2 separate regions of the Homo sapiens genome follow, and region 1 is linked to region 2. Evidence: fine-mapped expression QTL. Tissue or cell type: whole blood. Region 2 holds a variant in brackets; the other region holds the start of a gene. All regions are shown on one strand. Distances are from middle to middle.

The links. PIP is the estimated chance that this variant, and not a neighbour inherited with it, causes the effect.
Region 1: it holds the start of CD96, and the variant in region 2 is fine-mapped to the expression of CD96 in whole blood (GTEx, PIP 0.98).

The regions. Positions count from the first base shown.
Region 1 is chr3:111,538,265-111,546,040 of GRCh38, forward strand. CD96 (CD96 molecule) reads left to right here and starts at 3,933. Exons shown (of 14, transcript NM_005816.5): 1 at 3,933-4,045; 2 at 6,782-7,138. The coding sequence starts at 3,985. LOC105374039 (a long non-coding RNA gene) reads left to right here. Exons shown (of 3, transcript XR_001740846.1): 3 at 3,671-3,739.
Region 2 is chr3:112,032,353-112,040,128 of GRCh38, forward strand. TMPRSS7 (transmembrane serine protease 7) reads left to right here and starts at 2,384. Exons shown (of 18, transcript NM_001395507.1): 1 at 2,384-2,541; 2 at 5,720-5,969. The coding sequence starts at 2,494. The variant T/C (reference allele first, on the strand shown) is at 4,499.

The DNA.
Region 1 (7,776 bases), 490 kb before region 2:
TTCGGCATGGTGAAAATGGTGATAAAACAGATTGCTATGCTGAAAGTCTCATGAAATTCTTTTTCATTACATGCTAACTCATAAAACTCATAAAATTTGAGTGAAAACCAAAAGAACTCTACTCTGATGAAGGCAGGACTGCTAGCTGTGCCATAATAGGTTATCTTTCACATCCATCAAAAATCTATTGATCATTTAATAACTGCTCCTTGATTAGGGTGGTTCTTCCAGCAAGAATCCAACTCTGTTTGTTTTCCCTTTTTCCTAATTCTGAGGCATGAAACTTTATAGGATATTTTGATTCCATGCCCAATCGTACATCTCACCTTACAGCCTCTTTATTGGTAATGACCTTGCTTTCATCATGCTTCGCCATGCCAGTCAGCCCATTCTCATCCTAAAGTGCCCAAAGAAACATAAACTCCTAACAAGTCTTCTGTTTCTCTGTTCTCCTTTCTTCCATTCATTTCACACACGCCCACCCAATTTATCCTTTTAAAATGTTACTTTAAATATATGACTCATATGCTGAAATATCTTTAGGGAGTCTCTCTGACATGAGGAAAAAACCCACACCCTTTAGCCTAGAATTCAAAGCTCTTGGACAGCTTTGTCTGCTCCAAGTCCCCTAATACAGCCTCTGCTAAACCGGAATAGCCCACTCACTAAATGGCCTTGAACTTCAACACTGTCAAGTGTTGGCTCTTCCTGTTTCTTCTGCCTGGAATGACTTAGCTTGCGGTTTCTACCAGTCTGACGCCTATAGGGCCAAGTTTAGATTCCATACTTCATATGCTCTTGGCCCACTCTACCCCTAAGATAACTCCCCCTTTGCTAAAATCCTGCCCTACCTTCTCATTTGGGCTGTGCTTTATGCTGCTTGACTTTTTTGGTGCACATGGATGCTTCCTCCCAGCTAAATGGTAACTGCCTTAAAACTGAGGGTTGTGTTTTATCTTTGGTATTTTAAAATTATCTAGAACTATGCCTCTTCAGTAATCTCTTAAGAATTGACATACAGCAAGTATTTTTTAATTAACTGAAACCTTAACCATCATGTTTTCTAAGCATTTTGGAAAACATGCAAAAGTATAGCACTCCCATTTTTATTTTTAGTAAGTGTTTAAAGATAAGTAAGTAATATTTGAGTTAACCATTATGAAAACCACAAAAGTAAGTTTACCTTTTGCTCAACTTCCTGTTTCTGAAAATGTCCTTTTCTCACTGAGTGTGTTTAGCTAGAGCATTTAAAAAGTTTGTCCAAAACACACAATCATGGCTTGCCTTTAGCAGAAATAATGTGTGTTCCTGCTTCTCTTTGTAAATAATTGAATTTGCCTCTGCAGTTCAAGAAGATCACGATTTCTTTTTGTGTGTGAAACTGACTTGCTTCTGTTTTCTCCTTATGTGCAGCAGACTATAAGGCAGAAGAAACCCTGTGCAATCGGGATATGGTGGGTAGGGAGGATAATAGAAGAGATTGACATGACTTCCATAGAAGAGTTATTTTTAAGTATAGAGAACGCCTGTCTATCCCCATGCTGAAAGAGCCTTTAGAAAATATTACCAGGATTGAAAGGCGGTGGGGGCAATTCCCATCACCTGGGATAGCCGTGCCAGTCTGCGGAGTGTTGCTGCCACCTGCTGCATGCAAACAGCCATGGAGGGGCTGTTGCCTGGGTCTTGCAGCTGCAGGACACCCGAAGTGTAAGCGTTCAGTTAATATTCTGTGGCCATGCATCTGAAATTGTTATACTTTCAGAACCTGTGTGGATCCCAAAGAAAAATTAATCAAATCTGATGGCTTCAGGCCATAGAAGTTTCTAGATATAAGAATCATTAACTAAGCCCTGAACAATACACAGAAGACAGATTTGCCGTATAGCCACTAAATGCATGGCTCAGGTAGCCCAACCCCAATGAGAGGCAAGAATTCTACTGAAAGTAAGTCTGTAGCACTGGAAAATAAACGACCATTTCCATGTTTCTGAGTTTACAGACTTTTTTGGAACAACTGTTTCACTTTAATACAATAAAAGATAGGAGAAGTCTAAATACCCCAAAGAGGGTATTGTTCTTAGAGAATTCAATAAATGTATATTTGAATTGGTTTCTACTTAGGTAAATTCCTCTTAATATGAAAAATGGAACGAGATCATAGAATCCCTTCTCCAGGCTTGTAATGTGTCCTGATTTAATAGGGACACCAACGTGCAAATCAGGATCTTCATAGTGCATCTCCAGGACTATTTTTGCTGCTATGCTTCATAAAACTTTGATTTACTAGAATTTCCAGGGGCAATGGGAAGAGATGAAGCTACCCAGAGCAGTTATGTCTCTTCCTGACCTTCTATAAAGGACTTTGAGTTCCCAGGCCTTCCCTGGAAAATCACTGTCAGTACTACCTGACCCAATATCCCCAGTGACCTGAAACTCATGGGAAGTTGGGAAGGGGTGATAATAAAGGTTTGGGGAGCACTGGACTAGGCAAGCAGTAACTACATCTAAATTCTGCAAGAAATCATTAGCTGAGGAATACTGAATAAGTATGGCAATTATCATGGCAAGTATTTGCAGTGGTGGTATAGGGGGTGATCTGGACGTCCAGGAAGACAGTCGCCCTTGTTTATTTACATGAAAACCTCTCTTCTCCCATCTAAATTTAATCTCCTGAATGGCAAAAGCATTTCCTTCTGTCTTAGCATCGTCCATATTCACCACGAGTCCTTGCATAGGAGAGATTGGTGTATACATGATGACAACCTGACGAAAATTATCTCCACCTCACCTGAAAAGAATTCCCATCTCAGGATTACAACTGGCCTTTTCATTTGTCTTTGGTCTTGCTAGGTGGTACGTATATTCTAGTAATGAGATTAGGGTCACAGGATATTTTAATCATTCATACGGTTGTATGAAGACACACATGTTTATTTGTAGTTATTCTTTGTCCATCAAACTTACAGTAGTCCTCAGTCTAATGCTTGTTTTCTTAATGTTGGAGGGTGATGACAGCCTATTTTATCTCAGGCTGAAAAACTAATACAATTAAATCAGAGAATCATAGCAGGGAACAGTCATCGTGTTCTACGAATAGCCAGACATTTTTACCAAGGGGTCACTTTCCTGAAACCTGTTTGCGGTTCTCTGTAAATAGAAGTAACTAGGCAGATGTAATAAGCCTAATAGCTCACTGAGGTGGGAATTCTCTGCCTTTGGATTCTGATTGTTACTGCCTTGCTTTGGCTTAGGCATGGATAAACTCTTCTGTGGTGAACAAAAATGGCCTCCAGCCAACCTGGTGGGAGACTTCCCTATCTGACCTCCAACCTTCCCTCGTCTTCCCAGACGAGGGGTAGAAAAGTAGCCCTCACTCCTCCACTCCCAGGAAATGTGCATTTCCCTGCAAGAGGAGAGACAATAAAATTTGGTTTGATAGCTGACACTATTCCCTGTTACTTTTCAGATTTTATTAAAATTAAATGTGTTAATTCTTTGTTCTTTCACCCCAGGGCAATTCTGGAAAGAAAACATATCTTAAGATTGAACAGAAAAACTATTATGAAAAACACCAAGCTCACATTTGTTAAATGACTTTGTGCTCTTGAAAAAAATGTATAAAAAGCACATTGCCAACTGCTCTGCGTGATATCCTTTGTTTGGATTTTAGACGCAGCTTGACTGACACAGAGATCCTGAATAAGAGACTCTTTGGATACTGAAAAGTCTCTTAAATAAGGTGATACACAAATTTCAGAGAACAATTTCAACATTGTTCTGTCGAACGTTATACTCAGTCCTGAACCACATTACTTTCCTGTCTACGTTTCATTTCCTGGGGGCTTGCCAAGTGATAAACAGACCCAGGCGTGTGTGGTAGAGTTCGGGTTTTTTAGCACGAAGTGGGTGGCTGGAGTTTGCTTGAAAACATCAATTGACTTTGTGATCATTACAGAAATGCTGGTGTAAGGTGTTCAGAAGACAATGGAGAAAAAATGGAAATACTGTGCTGTCTATTACATCATCCAGATACATTTTGTCAAGGGTAAGACTTCCAGTTGTCCCTTCTTGTCGGATGGGCCGCTTTAGGGGCGGATGGGGCCTCTGTTCATTTAAAATGCCTTGTGACTGCTGCTGAAATTGATCACCAAAGGACAAATCATTACTAAGGGTTTCAGTTATGTATTTAAGCGGCAGGTATAAGAGAGATGCTAGAATCTAGAAATGATTACTAATGAACACTAAAAATAAGAAGGGAATGGGTCATTTGTGCCACTGCTCTGAGGCATTTTCACCCATTTCCTTTCTAACAGGATCTCTGGAGTAATTGGCAAATTGTGTTTCTTGGAAATGAAATGCTCTCCAAATGGTAGCCAAAACAACTGCGGAAAAATTAAAAATTACAAAGCCATCAACGCTCAGAGATCCTTGTTTAACTTTTTTCTCTCTCAAGTACTCTCTTTCTTTTGGATATAACAAGTATTTCTCATCCAAATACTAAGGTCTTTGGGAGTTGAAAACACGTTGAATTTTAATGAGGCATGTGTAGGTATGAACCTGGGAGACAAAGTGGAATCCTTATGACAGTGGGAACGAGAGCCTAATGGGCCTATTTAAAAAGAGAAGGAAGCAAGATTAGTTCTGTATTCCACAGTATGAGAGTATCATAGTAAGCCTGAGTGTCTTAAGAATTAACTGTGCTTTTCAGACATAGCTATGAAAATATTAAGGAGAATTTCTAAATCAAAAGAGATTTGGAATATAATGCTGTAGATAGGATCAGAGCCATATTTTCAGGCAAAGGATAGCTCACAGGAAGTTACATTAAACTGTACTAACCTCTGCCTACCAAACTTTTGCATCCACAGAAGTATGATAATTCCCATTTGTCAAGTACTTTTACTTTTAAGAGGCTTGTTTCTTCTCAGTTGCTTGTCATCTTTTTATCTTTTCCTTTTGTGAGCTTCAGTGGTACTTGTCACAATAATATATATCATTTCTGTAACAGGATTCCATGTTAATTCTAAAACTGAGGCCAACACTATTGAAGGCATGTCACAGTCTCAATGCTTAACACATTTTAAGTGTCCTGTATCACTCAGTCAGACTGCTGATGGGAAAGAGACTCTACTTATGTCTAGTATTTCAGACCATCGATTAGAGGTGATACTAAGTGGAACCTCTACCTAAGGTTAGATGAGGTCCTTTCAATCCTTGTATATTGAAAGTGAAATTTCTTACTCTAATCAACTAGACTGAATTTGGGAGACAGTTTGGAAGTTATGTGGAAGGAAAATAAAATAAAATAAGTAATAATAAAGTTTAAAATAATAAGCATAACATAGGTAATAGTTAACATTAAGTATAGGTTACTTAGAAGTTATATGTAGGCTAAGAAATTTAAGTAGCCCCTCCCAGCATTGCTAACAAGTTGCAGCTGTGAGCTTATCTCAACCTTCCAAGCTTCTTGCCTGCCCCCAGACCCCCACATATTTCTGTAACTCCTGTTTTACCTTACCCCATCTCTGTCTAGCTTCAAGATTGACTGGTTAAGATAACTAAATTGTAAGTTTTCTCAGAATTGTCACGGGTTAAATAATTTACTGTCTTTGCCTGAAACCTGTATCCTGCCTTGTTTTCCCACCTCAAACGACATATAAGCAAGCCTGCTTTCTTTGTCAGAGTCAGCAGCCATTTTGGGCATGAGTCTGCTGTGGGCCTGGATGCCTGAATTAAATAAAGTTCTCTTTGGTCTCTAAAGGTCTCTTTGTCTTCCTTGGCTGGAGTTTTACTGTTATACTTATGAGGGTTATAGAAAGACCACAGACTCTGGGCAACTGAATTCATTCTTTTACTGGAGGTGTGACTTTTTTTGTTTTGTTTCGTTTTTCGTTTTTTTGAGATGGAGTCTCACTCTGTTGCCAGGCTGGAGTGCAGTGGCATGATTTCGGCTCACTGTAATCTCCGCCTCCCAGGTTCAAGCGATTCTCCTGCTTCAGCCTCCCAAGTAGCTGGGACTACAGGCGTGCACCACCACGCCCAGCTAATTTTTGTATTTTTAGTAGAGACGGGGTTTTGCCGTGTTGGCCAGGATGGTCTGGTTCTCTTGACCTCATGATCTGCCCACCTCAGCCTCCCAAAGTGCTGGGATTACAGGCGTGAGCCACTGCGCCAGGCCTGGAGGTGTGACTTTGAGCATACTGTTTCATCTCTCTGTGGCCCAGTTTCTTCCTCATAAAAAGGGGTTAACAACATCACCTATGGCGTGTGAGGGGGATTAAACAAGATAAGATATGAAAGGCCCTTGTAAACATGTATTTTTCAAAGAAATTGCTATACACATATCATTTATTTTTGCAGTTTCAGAAAGCATCACGTGTGTATTATATTCAGCTGTCGTTTTATAACCCAAAAAGCCAATTATATTAAACGTAAGAAGAATCGTCATACTAAGTTTGCTGGTGTGCTTCAATTTTCAAATAGGCTTAATTTTATTCACAGGTAGTCTGAAACCTTCAATTATATTTTGGTCAGACCAACACATAGATAAATATTTAGAAGTCAGTAATTACCTCTAGCTTCTCTACGTAAATGCCTCCTCATTTATATTGTCTCATGCATCTCTATCTGAGTGAGACACAAGCTCTACTCTATTCCTAAAGCAGCCAGGGAGAAATTTCCTCAGTTGCTCCCCTCACCTTACTGAAGTGACTAGGGTTTTTAATTAAGCGTCATTCTATGTGAATTATTTAAACTCATGGCTCATGTTCTTTCTTTTCAGGAGTTTGGGAAAAAACAGTCAACACAGAAGAAAATGTTTATGCTACACTTGGCTCTGATGTCAACCTGACCTGCCAAACACAGACAGTAGGCTTCTTCGTGCAGATGCAATGGTCCAAGGTCACCAATAAGATAGACCTGATTGCTGTCTATCATCCCCAATACGGCTTCTACTGTGCCTATGGGAGACCCTGTGAGTCACTTGTGACTTTCACAGAAACTCCTGAGAATGGGTCAAAATGGACTCTGCACTTAAGGAATATGTCTTGTTCAGTCAGTGGAAGGTACGAGTGTATGCTTGTTCTGTATCCAGAGGGCATTCAGACTAAAATCTACAACCTTCTCATTCAGACACACGGTAAGCATAACTGGTAGAGGGATGTGCTTTCATTCAGCTCTCTCTCATTCAACAAATGTACATTTTAAGAAAAGCAAGGTTAGGCTTGGTGCTCAGCATACAAAGGTTGAGCAGAAAGAGCTACTGTCTGATAAGAGAGACAGGAAGTGACCACAGCATTTAAGTAAATAAATGTAAACTTGCAACAGTGATAAGTGTCGATAATAAATACTGTAACAGTCTTGTGAAGGAGCACATCACAGAGGCCATTGAAATTGTCCTTTAGAAATTAACACCATAGCTTAAGTCTAAAGAATGAGTAGACACTACCACAATTTAGGAGGTGGGGCTGAGGCAGAGTGGGATTGTGAGTAATCCCAGAGAGAGAAAAGAGCTTGCATGAAGCTCTTTGGAGTGTTTGAAGAAATGGGAAAATGCCAGTGGGACAGCAATACAGCAATTAAAGGATAAGGCAGGTAAGGACCAGATCATGTTGGACCTGGTCAGCTTCCCTTTTAAAAGGTTTCTATTTTGATCTCAGAACCATAAGAAGACATGGAAGTATTTCCAACAAAAGGATGGCATGACATTTATAGGCTGACTGTATTTGTGTTGTTTAAAAAAAAAAAGTCATACTGACTTTCATGTGAAAATGAGGT
Region 2 (7,776 bases):
TATTCTGTGGAGTCCTAATTAGGGAAAAGGAGTCGGGCTGGTGGAAGCAGGGGAAAGCAAAAAGAAGAAAGCAAATGAGCTGTAAGTCTGCCTTTCTTCATGGTCCAAGACATGTAGCCCTCCTGCACAAGTAACTCAAATAACTCACAATCTTCCTGCACCCGACTAATCACCAGACCCTTGACTGATAGAAAAATGCAAGTTAGCTCATTGTGACCTTGGCATTATCAGCACTCCACGTGGCCCTCTTGAGCACAAGCACCATCCTGTAAAATCCCGAGCCAGCCTTTGTCTCCTCGCAGCCAGCTCCTCTCTTGCTGATCTGCCTGTTGCTCTCTTGCAATGTATTTTCTTACTTTCTCTAATAAATCTACCTTTCTTTACCTACAACTGTCTTGGGAAATTCCTTTACCACCTGCACCACTGGCCCCAGATAGTTGTTACCCACAACATGTTTGAGACCAACTTTACAGTTGGGAGATTTCCAAATTAATTTCTGCATGACATTCATCACTTACTAAAAAATGAATAATAGGAATTGCTCATTATACACTTAAATAAGTATTATTCAAACAGTTGTAGTGGCAGTGATTGTTTAGAACTCATGGCAATTTTTTTTTTTTTTTTTTTTTTAGAGAGGAGTATTTTGTCACTGACATTATTTAGAATTGCTGGCATGATGATAGTGAAAAAGCAGCCTTTGGTTGGTTTTATGATTGCTTTTAAATTTGGTACATTTAACACAGCCTCCTGATATTTTGCTGCCACTTTTCACACTTGGTGGTGTGAAAGGGAAAAAAGGATGGGGGGACACTAGTTAAAGGCTGTAAAGACAGATTTTCTTCAGCACTGTTGCAACGGGAGAAAGTGAATTCGATATAGAGCTGAACTCAGTTCCAAATACAGCAAAGAAAGCTGGGGATTAGTAGTCAATGAAGAGAGTGAGGGGGTCCATGGTTGGAAAATTACTAAGGGGAAACACCAAGGGGCATCCTTGCTAAACTGACCAATCAGGATTCTTGTTACAGGCAGCCAAGGACTTACATATCAAGGGTAGGGGATAAAGAACTTGATCAGATATCAAGGGTATTTCAAGGCCACTCTTGAATCAAAAAAAAAAAAAAAAAAAAAAAGAAAGAAAGAAAGAAAGAAAAGAAAAAGAAAGCAAAATCAAGGGTGATCAGATATCAAGGCGGGGGGATTCCTGCTAAACTGACCAGATGGGCCAAAGACAAGGCCCAAGGACAAGGTCTAGTTGAAAAGAGAGCTCAGAGTAACCTGACAACACTTTGGTCAAGAAGAGAGTCTTTGTCAATGGCCACCGATAAGTATACAAATTTTACTTATATTGGTGAAATATGAGTTAGTTCTAGAAATAGGTAGAGAAATAATACTGGAAAGATGAGCCATTAAAAGTAATATTATAAAGTCTAAACCATTATTAATAATTTCATCAATGTGAATAATAAATAACAAAACCCAAGAGGCGAATTTGTACATGACTTAATTCTTTTTTTTTTTTTTTTTTTTTTTTTGTTATTCTGTCTCATCTTCCCCAAGTTAGATCAAATTTCAGGTATGAAGCAACTCAACTAATCTTTCCCCACTTTCAGCAGGCAGTTTCTCACTTGCCATATGCACAGCCCGTGAATGATGCTGAAGTTTGTGTCTGGATCAGCAGAACAGTGTTTCTCCTTTAAAGCGTGACAGATCAGCTTTCTGTTGACACCCAGTGCCCACAGGGTGATGAGGTTCCAGCAATCCCTGCCTTTTTCTCCCCGTCTGCTAAGAGAAATTCTGACACTGCCCCTCAGGATTGGATTATTCTTCCCACCATGGATCTAATTCAGATTGACATTGGGAAGTATGGGAGAGATGGAAACAGGGGCTTTACAGCAGAAAGGGCCCCAGGTTTACTGAGGACTGACTGCAAGAAGTAGGGGGAGCTAAATGGAAAAAAGTCCCTTTGGATTATGAGTTCTCAGAGAGTATGGCTGGAGAGTTGAGAGCAGGACTGAAGAGTGAGTCTCCTGGAGCAGGCAAGAGATGCCACGCAAGAGAAATGAGGTGTGAGGACTTCTCAGATGTGGTGCTGAGGGTTGTAAATTAGACCTCTTCATATTCTTTAGGAGATGCAAGAAAAAAATTATAATGATTTTTAAATGTTACTGGATTGTAGGATTGTGTTTCTTATAAGAAAACCTTGCCTTGAGGCTGGCTGTACTCTGAGAGGCCTGACTCCTATGAAAGTTACATTGAGAATCCTTGAGTTTGGGGTGCAAAGCTGAGTGCTAGGTCCCTTTAACATTTACAATATAGCAATGAGGCGGCTTCAGTTTCTGAACTGAACCCGGTGGAGGTAAATTGATTCCACTCCTCTGAAAGCTAGCTTGAATGCGGTGACGGTTCTCTCAATTCTTCTCAAGAGAGCATATAAGGGGCAAAAACTGGCTTTGAGACACCCCTGGATGATCACACACAAAACGCCTAATAATGGACAAAGAAAACAGCGATGTTTCAGCCGCACCTGCTGACCTGAAAGTAAGTACAGGGTGAGAAACTTTCTCTTACTTGAATGCCATTTATTGTTGACCCTGTTAGTAAAATGAGATTGTATGACCTTATAAACATAAAGGAAACAATAATAAAATATTTTATCTTCTTATGGTAATTAATGGGTTTTACAAATGTGAGCTTATTATAAAGTGCTGTACTTGGCAATTGATTTGTAGCCGTTTTTCTAAAACTCCAGGGAAATTGTACTGATCTCTACACAAATTCCATTTTAAAATTTAATCAGTGCTAACTGAGACTGCCTATAATGTGTTTCTGCACTTAAAAGATCCAAACTTGGCTTTGTCAGTTCAACATGTACTGGCATTTCTGCGTGTTTCTTTATTTCTTTTGGGGGAGCACTTGAAAGTAGCTTGATACCATCGACAACTCATTCTACAATGGAATGTTTCTCTCTTTAGAAACCCAGTCCTCATTCCTGCAGGACACCACATTAAATGATGTCTGGTCTAGTTCAATTTCACCAGAAAGGATACAAGCAACACTTCACTCCAGGGGTTGACAAGGTGTTTGGCAAAAAGAATGAAGGGGCCATGAATAATTCAGAGTGTACGTGGCCACGTATTATCCCATTAATTGGCAAGATTAAAGACTGGAGGGCATGAATTTTGAAGAGAAGAGTGAGGGAGAGGAAAAGAGAAGGAGAGAACTCTTAAGGACAGTGCAAAAGAGAGATTATTTCTTTGGCATTGGCATTCCATATTGTTGCCTTTAAAAGAATGTGTGGTTAAAAGCTATTTCGTCTCTGGAGTTTAGTTACCCTGACTTGTATAAATCTCTCCTTAAATGAAGCTAAACTCTTGAATACATTATTAAAGAATTCACAGCATCAAATAGCAGAGGGTAGACAAGAAAATAAAAGAGGAGGAAGGGAAACAATTAAATAATGTATTTTTTACTCTTGCACATAACACTATGCACATCAATACACTTAAACCAACAATTTTCTAATCTAATGAGTGTTCTATTTCATTCTTCCATTTACTTTTAAATAATTATTTCATTTATAATTGAGAAACTGTGGCTGGCAATGGCAGCGGCTGGCAATGGCAAAACAAACATATTTAATTCCTATAAACCCACAACCCTACAACCGTATGTAAACACACATGCTTTACGAACAATTTGTGCAGTTACAAATTGCACAAATTTGTACAATCTATGCAAATTATCATATCACCTTTACTTTTCCTTCCTACCACCCAGTCATGAAGCTGTAACTAGGAAATCAATTCATTTCTGTGGGGAACTCACTTATCTTCTTATTTTCAATCCTGCATCAGCCCAGAAATAATTGATTGTGAGAGAAAAACAATATAATACAAACATGTGAAACACACACATATACTAAAAGGACTGTGGACAGGCATAGTGGCTCACACCTGGAATCCCAGCACTTTGGGAGGCCAAGGTGGGTGGATCACCTGAGGTCAAGAGTTCAAGACCAACCTGACCAACATGGTGAAACCGCATCTCTACTACAAATACAGAATTAGCCAGGTGTGGTGGTGAGTGCCTGTAATCCCAGCTACTTGGGATGCTGAGGCAGGGGAATCGCTGGAACCCATGAGGCAGAGGTTGCAGTGAGCCAAGATCACTCCATTGCACTCCAGCCTGGTCAATAAGAGCAAAACTCTGTCAAAAAAAAAAAAAGGAGGGGGGAGGGGCTGTGTACACACATGATTCTACCCACATAGAATCTTAACCTTAACCTCCTAACCTTCAAGTCCTCTAATCTACTTTACCCCATGAAATTCAGGCCTCTCCTCCACAGCATCTATTCAACAGAGTTGGAGAGTTGAGGAAAGAACCTAGAAACTGTTGCGGGAAGTCAGCGACCCTGAATGGAGGGAATTGCTGAAGCCATGGCAGAAGAACATAAATTGTGAAGATTTCACGGACATTTATTGGTTCCCTAAATTAA[T/C]ACTTTCATAATTTCTTACGCCTGTCTTTACTGCAGTCTCTGAACATAAATTGTGAAGAGTTCATGGACATTTATCATTTCCCCAATCAATACTCTCATAATTTCCTATGACTGTCTTTACTTTAATCTCTTAATCCCGTCATCTTTGTAAACTGAGGATGTATGTAGCCTCAGGACCCTGTGATGATTGCGTTAACTGCACAAATTGTTCGTAAAGCATGTGTGTTTGAACAATATGAAATCTGGGCACCTTGAAAAAAGAACAGGATAACAGCAATGTTCAGGGAACAAGGGAGATAACCATTGGGTCTGACTGCCATGCAGGACAGAGCCATATTTCTCTTATTGCCAAAAATGGGTAAGAGAAATATCGCTAAATTCTTTCCCCAGTAAGGAATATTAATAATTAACAGCCCTGGGAAAAGAAAGCATTCCCAGGAAGAGACCTCTAAAATGGCCGTCTAGGAGTGTCTGCCTTATGCAGTTGCAGATAAGGGATGAAACACACCCTAGTCTCCTGCAGCACCCCCAGGCTTGCTAGGATTAGGAAATTCCAGGTTGGCGAATTCTAGTCAGACCAGTTCTCTGCTCTTGAACCCTGTTTCCTGCTAAGATGTTTATCAATGACAATGTGTGCCCAGCAGGATGTGGACCTTCATTAGCAATGCTAGTTTCACCCTGACCTTGTGATCTTGCTCTGACCTTCTGCCTTGTGATATTTTATTGCCTTTGAAGCACGTGATCTCTGTGGCCCACACCCTATTCATACACTACCTCCCCTTTGAAAATCGCTAATAAAAACTTGCTGGTTTTGTGGCTGAGGGGGCATCATGGAACCTGCCGACATGTGATGTCTTCCCCGGACACCCAGCTTTAAAATTTCTCTCTTTTGTACTCTTTCTCTTTATTTCTCAGACCGGCCGACACTTAGGGAAAATAGAAAAGAACCTACATTGAAATATCGGGGGCTGGTTCCCCCAATAGAAACCATTTCACTAGGGTTTGTATACAGTAATGTCTAGTTTATCTGATCTTAATTTTGTGACTTGGTGCAAATCAAGTTATTATACTTATGTAAATAATTTGATATACTTACATAAATATGAATGCTTAAATAGTCATATTTAGGCCTTTTAGTACCAACATCTCCTGACTGGGTAGTTTCATTTAAGATCCTGTCTACTTCTACTTGGTAACATATCTTATTTCTTTTTTTTGAAGATATCCAATATCTCAGTCCAAGTGGTCAGTGCCCAAAAGAAGCTGCCAGTGAGACGACCACCGTTGCCAGGGAGACGACTACCATTGCCAGGAAGACGACCACCACAAAGACCCATTGGCAAAGCCAAACCCAAGAAGCAATCCAAGAAAAAAGTTCCCTTTTGGAATGTACAAAATAAAATCATTCTCTTCACAGTATTTTTATTCATCCTAGCAGTCATAGCCTGGACACTTCTGTGGCTGTATATCAGTAAGTTAAAAATCTGTGTTTCTTTGGGGTTAGGGCTTATGGTATGAGTCCAGCATTAGCAATGCAGCCCTAATCTGCCATAGGTATTTCTGATGGGATTTTCCTTTTTCCAATATGGATACACCATTTCCAAAACTGGTGTTGATGGTTTTTTATTATTTTGTTTTGAGACAAGGTCTTGCTCTGTCACCCAGGCTGGAGTGTAGTGGCACAATCACAGCTCACTGCAACCTTGAACTCCTGGGCTCAAGCAATCCTGCTGCCTCAGCCTCCCGAGTAGCTGAGACCACAGGTCTATGCCAGCACACCTGGGCTAACTGGCTAACTTTTAAAGTTTGTTGTAGAGACAGAGTTCTCACTATGATGCCCAGGCTGGTCCCAAACTCCTGTACTCAAACAATCCTCCCACCTTGGCCTTCCAAAGTGCTAGGATTACAGGCGTGAACCATGGTGCCCGGCCTGGTGTTGATATTTTAAGGAGACATAAGCCAGAATTCTCTTTCTCATTTCTTTTTTTTTTTTACCAACACCATTTTCTCCCCATAGGAGAGCAAGAGGAGGAGATTGGGGATAGGATGGGAAGAGCTGAGAAGGATGCTCAGGAGATTTTGACTGGTTCAGAAATGTAATGCATTTGTAGCTTTAAAAAAATTAATGGAATGCTAAGCTGTTTCATTTCCTCATTCCACCCACCACCTGTTTCTAGGCAACCTTGAATTTCCGGCTCCCTGAGCTCCATTTTGCACATGCATCTTTCTCTCCTCTGTTATTACGTGTTTGTTGATCTGACTGATCCTTTTGGACAGGTGTCATAACTAAGCCCTTTCCTATAGAGTTCTCACTTATGCAACACTGCAAGTATAGCCTTTGTTGACTTGTATCGGAGTTGCCATCTATACATGTTAATGTATTTGATACAAAATCATGCACCATGATATAATGTGAAATACATAGTTATTCTGTGCCCTAGATTTCTGGCTCAGAGCTTCTAACATTCTGTAACTTCCTGAATGATAGGAGTGATAGGAGCATCTTTTGGTTTATATACATACATTTTGTTATAATATTTGATTGTAGTCCTTAGATCCTAACACAGAGCTTCTAAGAATGTCTTTTTGTATATTAACAAAGTGACTGGTGGCTGAAAGCCCCTAGGTAACCAGAGAAACCAACCACATGCTTAGAGGATTGTAACTTTCAAGAGGGGGCTGAAGATTGAGCTTAATCACGAATGCACAATGATTTAAAACTGACCTCTGTAAAAACCAAGGAGCTTCCAGGTTGGTGAACATATCCAGTTGCTGGGAGGGTGGCATGCTCCAACTCCACAGGGACAGAAGCTCCTACTCTAGAGACCCTTCTGGACCTCGCTGTAGGTACTTCTTCATCTGGCTGCTCATCTGTATCCTTTATAATAAAGAAGGAATAGTAAGTAAAGTGTTTCTCTGAGTTCTGTGAGTCATTTTAGCAAATTATGAAACCTGAGGGCTTTATGAGAACAGCCAATTTGTAGCCAATTTGGACAGCAGTGTGGGTAGCCTGGGGACCTACTACTTCTGATTGGGATCTGCATTGGGGGGCAGTCTAGTAAGAATGTGCCTTTAACCTTTGGGGTCTGACACGAACTCTTGGTAGCTGGTGTCAGAATTGAATTGAATCATTGGACATCCAGTTGGTGTCTGCAATGAATTGGAGAGTTGCTTGGTGTGCGGAACCCCTGCCCCCACCCCCACATTTGGTGACAGAAGTGTTATGGGTAGAGAAACAGTTTTCCTAGATGTACTCTCAGAGATATGAAAATCTGATT